Homo sapiens: one gene and its partners. The protein of the gene in region 1 purifies or fractionates together with the protein of each later gene. This does not show direct contact. Each region holds a gene or a part of one and is shown in the gene's direction. Other genes may lie near its edges. The genes, in order: VTI1A, CLCN5 and VPS50.

What was found.
Region 2: the proteins of VTI1A (region 1) and CLCN5 purify together in Homo sapiens (affinity purification with mass spectrometry; one large-scale study listed by BioGRID and IntAct). This does not show direct contact.
Region 3: the proteins of VTI1A (region 1) and VPS50 purify together in Homo sapiens (pull-down; one study listed by IntAct). This does not show direct contact.

Annotation. Positions count from the first base shown.
Region 1 is NC_000010.11:112,670,599-112,674,254, forward strand, and holds part of VTI1A (vesicle transport through interaction with t-SNAREs homolog 1A), read left to right. Parts: intron 1-3,656. UniProt on the Homo sapiens protein: V-SNARE that mediates vesicle transport pathways through interactions with t-SNAREs on the target membrane. These interactions are proposed to mediate aspects of the specificity of vesicle trafficking and to promote fusion of the lipid bilayers.
Region 2 is NC_000023.11:50,090,096-50,093,751, forward strand, and holds part of CLCN5 (H(+)/Cl(-) exchange transporter 5), read left to right. Parts: intron 1-20; coding exon 21-419; intron 420-574; coding exon 575-791; intron 792-2,033; coding exon 2,034-2,124; 3' UTR 2,125-3,656. UniProt on the Homo sapiens protein: Proton-coupled chloride transporter. Functions as antiport system and exchanges chloride ions against protons. Important for normal acidification of the endosome lumen. May play an important role in renal tubular function.
Region 3 is NC_000007.14:93,235,321-93,238,976, forward strand, and holds part of VPS50 (syndetin), read left to right. Parts: intron 1-3,656.

The DNA of each region.
Region 1 (3,656 bases):
TGTGTTTGAATAAATTTGCAAGTCATTTAGAGAGGGTGAAGCACAAACAACTTCTGCAACCTTTGACTGGGCTTTCTGTAGGGAAATCATAATAACGTGGTTGTTTCAGAAGCCTACGGAAGAAAATTACTCTGGTGAAATCTACATGGGGTTCTCTTTGTAGGCAAACTCAGTCAATCACTGACTCATCTTCTTTTGGGATGTGTCTAGAGTATGAACAGAAATAAAAATTCCCAGATGGACATCACCTTGCTACATCTGAACCAAGGGTATGCTTAAGTCCACCTGTTCATATGCATGACAATGTTTTTCACTAGGCACAGCTGGGATCTTGGTATCAGCCAGGATATTCAGATATTTTCAACCAATGCCATAACGTGGCAGGTTTTCTGGGGACCAAATGCAGTGGTTTTAGTTTCTAATTACTGCCGCGTATGATATACAATGTATTTTGGACTTGAAAAGGCACAAACATTTTGCCAACCTCTCTGCTTCATTATTTTGGTTATCTCATGGAAAAGCTCTCTCTAGAGAAGTAGAGGCAGGGTTTATGTACCAAAGCCTTTTATTGAATGCTCTGATTTTGCTTTCCCTGTTACAACCCTCCCATTCATATGGCTTTCACTTCCAGCCCTTGTGAGCTTGTGTTTCAGAAAGAAAAGCCACATTCTCTTACTCTTCTTCTTACCAAAACTGCATAGCTATATCGTGTGTCAACAAGCGTTTCTGATTTAGGAAATGTTATGTTATTGAATCTTGTACTCATCTGTCACCTTCACAAATCTATAAAAGAAATGAATGTCCTCTTTGTGAAGTGTGAGCATTTACCTGCATATAACATAAGCTTATTTTCATATGATAAATTCTGTGTGACTGAAAATAGTTAAATATTCTGTAGTATACCAAACCAAGGAGTTGCTTTATTTAAAAGAAAGATTGCAGGTTATTTTTAAAATTTTTTAAACCTTGATTGTTCTTAAATTTGTAAAGTGAACAGAAATGGCTTGGCACGGCTCATCATTTGAGCCATTTTACGTATGGTCTGTTGTGAAGACAGGTGAAACCAGTGTTCCATTGATACCAAGATCTGTGCGTATGGCCACTTGATTATCTGTAAAACTGACCAAAAGGAATTGGAGAAATCAAAATAAGTAAGCAACAAAAATTAAGTTTATAAAATCCAGCAGCCACTAAATAATCATCTACCACTCATGCTTTTTAATATTTTATTAACTTCAAATAAGATAAACATCTATTTCCTTCCTTCTTTCCTTTCTTCTCTTCTTTCTTCTGCTTATTCATTTCCTTAGTAAATATTTAATGTCTGTATGCCAGGGCCGGGGATCCTGAAATGAAACCAATTTTATCCTCACTTTCAGAGTACTTTAGTGTAGTAGAGGACGTATGCATAAAAATGTACTATGGAAATTCACAAAATTAACGGATTCTCAAAGCAGCTATTGAAGATTCCACAACTCCAGTTAGTCCTTGCTGGTCATTAAAAGGGACACCAGAAAAACAAATAACTAATAAAAAATACGAGTTAAATGGCTATAATGCCCACCTGTTTGGAAAAAAAAATAGGGAAATAGAAAATGGTATATGGAATCATTACAAACAAATTTTGAAAAGAACTAAGGTGTGCAAAAACATTGACATATAATATGTAATTTAGTGAGACAGCAACTGCTTCAACCGAAAAGAAATTGCTCTTCATGTAAGCATGCCATGTTACCAAAAGAAAGAAAACAAAGGAGAAAATTGGTTCATTCAAAATTATAATAGTAAAACTCGACATCAGAACACAGCTCTGGCTGATTTCCTGGAAAGTAATTTTTCTTCGATCCTGACATGTGATGGAGAGCCATCCAGGGACAAACTGTTCATTTCCTAACTCTGTAGACAGAGTTTAAATACAGTGGAATTCAGATAATAATGAAAATGGTCATGAAACAAGTGACCATTTATGTTGTAACTGGGTCCAATAAATGGGTCTTTTCATTGACTTTCACAAAATTTGATTATTATAATTGGCTGTCTTAAAGTGTCACAGTATCACTAGGAGACTTAAATGTCTCTCTTCATATGTGTGTATTTATGTGTGTGTCTGTGTGTGTATTTTTTCTATACCTTTGAGCAGAAAGTCTTATTCGTTCAAACTGTCGGCAATCTGTAAAAATGAAAATTAAGATTTTCAAAATTCAGTCAGAATAAAAAGAAATCATGATTCTATTTCCTTTTACCTCTGAAGAGTTAATGATTGATCACTAATTGTACATTTGTTTCTAAAAGTATATGAACAATGCCTCAGGAATGTAACAAAGTTATAGCTTAAGAGCTCCACTGACAAAAATTTACAGGATATGTTACTACTTTACCTTGGCTCCTCCGCTGCATTGTATATGCTGGCAAAGTGCTTATAAAAAAAATGGCATAAGCCAGGTGTGGTGGCTCACACCCGTAATCCCAACACTTTGGGAGACCGAGGCAGGCAGATCACTTGATGCCAGGAGTTCGAAACCAGCCTGGCCAACATGGTGAAACCTCACCTCTACTAAAAAATACAAAAAAAATTCGCCAGGTGCAGTAGCTAATAATCCCAGCTACTTGGGAAGCTGAGGCATGAAAATCACTTCAGCCTGGGAGGCGAAAGGTTGCAGCGAGCCGAGGTCACATCACTGCACTCCAGCCTGGGTGACAGAGTGAGACTCCATCTCAAAAAAAAAAAAAAAAGAAAAAGGAAAAGAAAAGAAGGAATGGCATAGATGATTAACACCCATTCTGTTTGACAATCTCAAATCAAATAATTTCCTCTCTCCCCGACACTACCTATATTTGCCCCCATTCACACACATGCGCGCGTGCGCGCGCACACACACACACACGCACTCAGATTGTTTCCTTCAGAAAGTGAATTTTGTTTATCCTTCCAGTATGAGTATGGTTAACTTCCTTATGCGTGGAGCTGCTAAGAGGTCTTTTGTAACTAATCTGTAGTATAAACAAAGCAGACAGTATTAAATGCAGTTGACCTAGCCAGGACCATTCACACAATATTATCTGATATGCATATTTTTGTTAGAGTTACTTTCGAGTTAGCCTGGGGAATCATTGCCACCTATCATTGCTATCATATTTTACATTTTAAATGTAGTCTTTGGTAGAATGACAGGTAAAACATCTGGAAAGCTTAAATGCACTGTCAGAATGATTCCTAAGAGTAAATAGACCAGGAATGCCAATGCAAGATCTGTAAGCTATAGAAATGTAATTTTTAAAATAAAAACAGGTTTATTCTTACATATGCCATGGCTAGATGTTTAAGCTTTTTTTAAAAACTCATTCTTTTTTCTCCTTCATTTTGCCCAGGAAACATTCTGTTATATTCTAATTGTTCTTACTACAATGTCTGAAAATTCAACAGTATAGAGTTTTCAAGACTTGTGAGAAAAATGTCCTTGAAAATTTGCTGTAAATTTTTAGGCACTGAAGAAAGTATCTTCTCTCATAGTACCTTGCATTTATATTTTTACTTCTCTATCTCTTTTTCTTTTCTCTGTTCTCTCATTCCTCTTTCTCAGCACATTTTACTTACTGGTGATAAACTCGGGCCCTGACCTGAAATTAGTGTAGCAAAATCTCAATGTCTAAACTGT
Region 2 (3,656 bases), on another chromosome or scaffold:
CTGTGTCTATTTCTTTGCAGGTGGGGTGACTCGGATGACTGTTTCTCTTGTTGTCATAATGTTTGAACTGACTGGTGGCTTAGAATACATCGTGCCTCTGATGGCTGCAGCCATGACAAGCAAGTGGGTGGCAGATGCTCTTGGGCGGGAGGGCATCTATGATGCCCACATCCGTCTCAATGGATACCCCTTTCTTGAAGCCAAAGAAGAGTTTGCTCATAAGACCCTGGCAATGGATGTGATGAAACCCCGGAGAAATGATCCTTTGTTGACTGTCCTTACTCAGGACAGTATGACTGTGGAAGATGTAGAGACCATAATCAGTGAAACCACTTACAGTGGCTTCCCAGTGGTGGTATCCCGGGAGTCCCAAAGACTTGTGGGCTTTGTCCTCCGAAGAGATCTCATTATTTCAATTGGTAAGGATTTCAGAAAGGGGATAGTGGAATCCACTGTGGAACTCAATAAATATGCCTGAAATGGGGGAAGACAGGGAAGGGGGGACTGGTTAGGAGCCAGAAGGATAGAGCTAGCACGTCCATCTTCAATTTGTTTTTTCCTTCTGTTTGAATAGAAAATGCTCGAAAGAAACAGGATGGGGTTGTTAGCACTTCCATCATTTATTTCACGGAGCATTCTCCTCCATTGCCACCATACACTCCACCCACTCTAAAGCTTCGGAACATCCTCGATCTCAGCCCCTTCACTGTGACTGACCTTACACCCATGGAGATCGTAGTGGATATTTTCCGAAAGCTGGGACTGCGGCAGTGCCTGGTTACACACAACGGGTAAGAAGTCTTGAGTGAAGTCAAATTGAATTGTGGGAGAAAGAGAATGCAGAGATAGAAAGAAGTAGAAAGAAGTAGAACCCAGTTTAAATGAACATTAGTAGCACTTTTAGGACTTCTTGAAGCTCTGAGATGAAAGTGGATAGGTTTTTTTAAATCATAATTAATGTAAAGGGAGTTTGGGAAAGAACATGTGTTTGAGAGATGTGAACTGCTGGTTGCATATTATAAATAACCCAGTTCCTCCCTGACAAAGGAAACACCTGTGTTTTGTGCATAGGCAGCACTGAAATTACAGTAGCATCAGGTAATAGTGTATTTGCTGGGTGTTTGTTCCCTACAATCTCCTTATTATTACTTGAGGATGAGAAAACCAAGTTTCAGTGAGGTGAGATTTATACAAAGTTCTCCAGCTAATAAATAGTAGAGAAAGGCTTTAAACACAAGTCTTCTGACTCCCAAGCCCATGGCTCTTTCCTTCCTGGGATAGTTCTTATCCAGTAAAGGGAACCCTTCTATTTTTATTGGAAAAGAAAGGAGGTTGAGGAGAGGGGTGGATTTTTTTCCCAAACATGCTACGTTAATCCAGCAATTATATAAGAATTTCACATCTGAAATTTCTAAATGGTGTAACAGATGCCTTGCAGGATTTAAATCAGTAAGGGGAGTTCCCTAACTGGTTCATTCAACATCTGCTGAATCCCTGCTCCATGTAAGAAGGTACTCCACTGGATTCCAGGGAGACACAAAAATTAATAAGACCCTTCTGTGCCCTCAAGGAGCAGACAGTGTTTTAAGGAAGGCAAGAACCTAGCAGTGGTTATAGTACAATAGCAAAGAGGACAAGTGCCACTGAGGAGGCCTGCAAAGAATGTGCATGCTGTTGCTGTGAGGAGGGCAGAGTTCCTGCTGGCTCATAGAATCAGGGAAGGTGCTCTGGAATAGGGGCGTTTGAACTGGGCTGCAGTAGATAAGATTCAGATATGTAGCGAAGAGTATTTAAACCAGAGGAAATCGCAGGGTCTGAGACCTAGAGGTAGAAACACTTGCATACATTTAGGAATCCACACATCATCCTATTTGCCTGGGGCACATGTCCTACTCCTGTGATCTCATACTGAAAGGGCAGCTAGTGATCAAAGACAAAGTTGAAAAGGACTGAGGAGGACAAGTATCACCTTTGGGAATGCTATTTTAACTACAGATTTATTTTTGTTTTTTTGTATTGTGTTTGTCTTTTAGGCGATTGCTTGGAATCATTACCAAAAAGGATGTGTTAAAGCATATAGCACAGATGGCGAACCAAGATCCTGATTCCATTCTCTTCAACTAGAATCATAGAGTTCTGGATGTAAAGCGGGAAGGACATTACAGACCATGGATATGTTGTATTAACTGGGTACCCAAAACACATTTTCCATATTTGGATGGTGAAGTCACATTAGTGTGTTGTCTCTTTCCTACAAGTTAACCAGTTGCACTACATAATCTCTGGAAATTAATTTTCTCTTTAGGAGAAATTATAGTTAGGCTTCCATGATGTTACATTAGGAAGATATCATGAAAGAATAAATAAGATTGCTATGGTTTAATTATATTTGCTTTTTAAAAGATTTTTTTAACTTAAAAAGTAGTTAGCCAATATGCAATCACTGAAAACTATGCAAGAGAAATTCCAACCGTCCTGACCTATAACCTGTAGGAAACCGACGAAAAAGTCACTCTTTTGGGATCTAACTGTTGTTACTGGAAGACGAAGTGTAAACTAAGGGGCTTTGCTTTTCAAACCAGAGAAAGGAAAGCCAGAAGGAAAAGAGTAATGGTATTTTCTAGACTGTGAAGATTCAGTTCAAATGTTATCCTTGTTCCTGTTACAATATTTAGCATTATTAGTTTGTTATGTGTGTATGTTTATGTTAATTTTAATTTCTGATTATAAGACAATGCTGCTTTGGTTAATCTCTTCTAAATGAATTTAGAGAGATTGACTTTTATAGCTTGCTTGTTGCTGGTACTCTTTTGAAGTGCACAAAGATAAGTTATAGAGCTTTCTCCTTGTCTGCAAAAACGGTAATTTTCCAGGTGGCATTTGTTAGCTGGTAGACAAGGACTTTGCCGTGAATTTGTTAGTAGCAAGGAATGATTTCTTCCAGCTTCCTTGAAATGAATAATTAGTAAACTTCTAAGCAAAGTCAATGACTAGGAGTTTCACATGTTTGTGAGGTCCTAACTAATTCTCTTACCCAGATGCCACCTCCATGAATGATGGTGCTTTAGGCTTCTGGAATATGTAAAAACAGCAAAGGGAACCAAGTCTAGACTGCATACTGGTAAACCAGGGAAGACTCAGAACTGCATATGCATCCTCATGCATTCCTTTGTAAAGACCACCAGTACTAAAATAACTGGACACTCATTGTACCTCCCAGCGATAAGTATGTGTAACAGGCCAGTGTGTTGTCCCCATGATCATGAATTAGGCTTGGGATGCTTCCAAATATATTCAAGGTGTTGGAACAGGATAGGCAGCTGTGACTCCCTCAAGAGTCCTTAGAATTCTAAATAAAATGCAGAGCCATCCTAAGACACAGGGGTATGGACAAGGCCTGGTGACACCAAAGGTGCTTGTATCCAATTGAAAAGGTGCCTGTCTCAATTTCATACCACCTTTATTGCAGTTAAAAAAAAATCACACTCTGGGGACACTTGGTGGAATTACAGAGCCACCATCATCATTCCAACCACTATTTCATTTTCTGTAGTTTTACCTGTGTGCAATTACTCCCCCTCCATTCTGTTCCACTTCTTACTCCTTAGTACCAAATCCTCTGTTTGGGATTGAGCGCTGCTCCTGGTTAATCATTC
Region 3 (3,656 bases), on another chromosome or scaffold:
AGGTAATAGCAAGGTCATGGCTTTCATTCTGAGTGAAATGGCAAATAGAGGAATGATATAATTGGACATAACACTTCAGACAGACCATTTGGACCCATGTTTTAAGAACAGATTGAAGAGCGGAAAAGAGCAAAACCAGGGGAGGTGAATGATGAGGCTACTGTGGTAATCCAGGTGAGAGGGTGGGTGTAAGCCTTCCACCCTAGTGGTGGAAGTGTTGAAAGAGGTCAGACTGTGAATATGCTGTAAATGTAGAGGTGACAGAATTTCCTGACAGATTGGGTTTGGGCTGTGAGGGAAAGAGAAGCATCAAGGATGACTCAAAATAGTTTGGCCCTAGCAATTGGAAGAATGTAATTGCCATTTCCTCGGATGGATAAAACTGAGGGAGGAACAGATTGAGGGAAGGGACATGGTTTTTGGACTTGTTAATTTGAAAGCCTCTTAAATATTCAACTGGAGAGATACAGCAGGCAGTTGGCCAGATGAATCTGAATTTATGGGGCGAATCCAGGGTATAGCTGAAACTCTGGGAGTTACAAACATGTAGATTGCATATAAACTGGTTAAGATCACCAGTGGAATGAGTGTAGATATACAAAGAATCTAAGGTTGGAGCTTTTGAGAATCCAGTGTTAAAAACTCAGGGGGAAGTGGTGGATCTAGGAAAGCAGAATGAGAACATGCAGCTTGTGAGGTAAGAAGTCTTTAGCTTCCTGAATGGCACCTGGAATATAGCAGATGCTCAATAAATATTTGTTGCATGAATGTGGGATGAAGAGAACAACCAAGAAGACTGCCTTGAAGCCAAGTAAAGAATTTAAAAGAGTAAGGAGTGATTAGCTGTGTTAAATGCTGCAGATTGGTCAAGTAAGGTGAGAGTGAGAATGAGAAATGTGCTTTTGGATTGAGCAGCGTGGAGGTCCTTGGTGCCCCAACTACAGCAGTTTTCATGAAGTTGTGGGGAGGAAAGCCTGATTAGAGTGGGTTCAGGAGAAAATAGGGGGAGAGAAATTAGGGACTGGGTGTAAACACTCTTGAGTTTTGCCGAAAGGAGAAGGAAACACAAATCATCACAGATGCTTCTTTGGATGGATAAGACATAGTTGCTGGTTTCGTAAATGGAAAATGAGGATTAATGTAGACATAACTGAAGTAGTCTGAAGTGTTAATCTGATTTGGGTAAATGAAGAGGCGAGTGTTAATTTATGCTGAATTTTCTATATGTCTAAACTGGGGAATTATCAACACAAACATCAAATACAAAAGAAAATCAAATAGTGGTTAATGATAGCATCAAAGTGTTAATAAAGGCAGAGAACTGTAGTTAAAACCATGACTTCATGCTTTAGAGAGATGAAGATAAAATAAGAATGACTTCATTTGTTAGTAGAAGTTTATAAAACTGATAAAGTGTTAAAAATCTGTAATTCTAAAGTACAGTTGAATGTCAGATGTGCTTTGAGACATTTATGTAATTCTTCATTTCTGTTTTGATAAAAGGAAAGCATTTCTGTCATAATAAAAATATTAAGAATTATGGTTAATCATCACAGAATGCTTGAGATATATGAGACAGTATTTTTGGCTTCTCACATACATGACCTCTTTTACTTCTTTTTTTTTTTTTTTTTTTTTTTTTTTTTTTTCGAGACAGTCTCACTCTGTCGCCCAGGCTGGAGTGCAGTGGAGCGATCTCGGCTCACTGCAAGCTCCGCCTCCCGGGTTCATGCCATTCGCCTGCCTCAGCCTCTCAAGTAGCTGGGACTACAGACGCCCGCCACCACGCCCGGCTAATTTTTTTTTTTTGTATTTTTAGTAGAGACGGGGTTTCACTGTGTTAGCCAGGATAGTCTCCATCTCCTGACCTCGTGATCCGCCCGCCTCGGCCTCCCAAAGTGCTGGGATTACAGGCGTGAGCCACCACGCCCGGCCTGTTTTACTTCTTATAATAGCCTATGAATGATCATAGAATATAATGCACAGAAAGGATAGATAAGTTGTTCAAAACCACAGCAAGAAAGTCAGGATACAAACTCAAGTGGTCTGCTCCAGAGCCCATTGCTATAATCACTTCACTCTACATCCTCCTAACATGTACACGGGTTTTCAATTTGTATTACTTTTATTTTGTACATTTGGCAGAAATTTGCCGTGTATTGGTATTGAATTGTTGTGTGGTGACTACTTTTTCTAGATATTGGTATATATCACGTTTACATTTCAGGCATTGGTTTCTTTACGGACTAGCTCTGGGGAAAGAGAAATTAAATATGATATATTTCTTCAGGGATTTCTGTTAGATTAGTTAAGCAAATCTATACAGATGGTCCCCGATTTACTATGGTTTCACTTAATGAATTTTTGAGTTTATGATGGTTTTATTGAGATTATTAAATGTATTTTCCACTTATAATGGGTTTAAAAATTTTTTTTATTTTTAGTTCAAGGGTACCTATGCAAGTTTGTTCTATAGGTAAACTCGTGTCACAGGGGTTTGTTGTACAGATTATTTTGTCACCCAAGTATTAAGCCTGGTACCCAATAGTTATTTTCCTGATCCTCTCTCTCCTCCTACCCTCTACCCTCAGGCAGTCTCAGTGTCTGTTTTCTTCTGTATGTTTCCATATGTTCTCATATGATGGGTTTATTGGAACATAACCCAATTGTAAGTCGAGGAGCATGTGTACTTTGAAAAATGTTTGTTTAAAAGACATGGCAATTACATTTTAAAAATATATTTTAGGGGTGGTCATGATTTTGAATCAAATTGGGAAGTTTTACTTTCATGTGTGCATATATAATGTATATAGAAGTGTAGTTTGGTAACTCAGCCTTGCCTTCTTTACCAGTTTTGATGCTATTCCCTCATGACTGTTGGTGAGAATTCGAGACAGGGAAGAACAAACCGCCCAAGACTAGTAACATACTATTTTTCTCCCTCACTCATTGAAAGGCATATTAAACCTCCTTAGGCCTTTTTTTTTTTTCCAGCGAGCATTCCTAGAAATTTTTTTGCAGTCAATTACATGTTCCCATGGGAACAATGCGCTAATTTGTGGGAGATTGGAGCCTGACCAATGACTTCTACCTAATAATTTACTCATTTCTTTGTTGTTTACTCTGTTTCTGGAACTTTGCTAGCCACTGGGCTGCAGAGGCAAATAGGACTTTGTCTCTCCCTTTCCTTAGGACTTAAAGTTTGGAAGAGAAAGATATATTTAAAATTTAAAACTTTACTACTTTGGCTGAGGTATTGTCTTGGAAGATGTCTTACTGAGGTATTGTTTTGGGAAAATGCACATTCCTGGCCCAAATCTAGAAAAACCTATTCATTAGGTTTATTTTAGGGCCTAGGAATCTTACTTTTAACAAGTTCCCTGGGTGGTGTTGATGGACATGATCCAAGGGTTATACTGAGAAATACTGTGTTCTTTGGAGCATAGGGATTTAGGAAGACTTTGTAGAGGAGATAATTCTGAAAGTGATGTATTGCTTTCTCATTTCTTGGAGTGGTAAGTGTGCCTGAGAGAGGGAGACGGGGAGAGAAGGGTGGGTAGGTTAGATATTCTGGGGGTAATGGAAAACTTGCGGTTGAGGCAGAGCACTTTGTAATAAAAAATTTTAGATATGACTAGTGGTATTTTACAACAGGG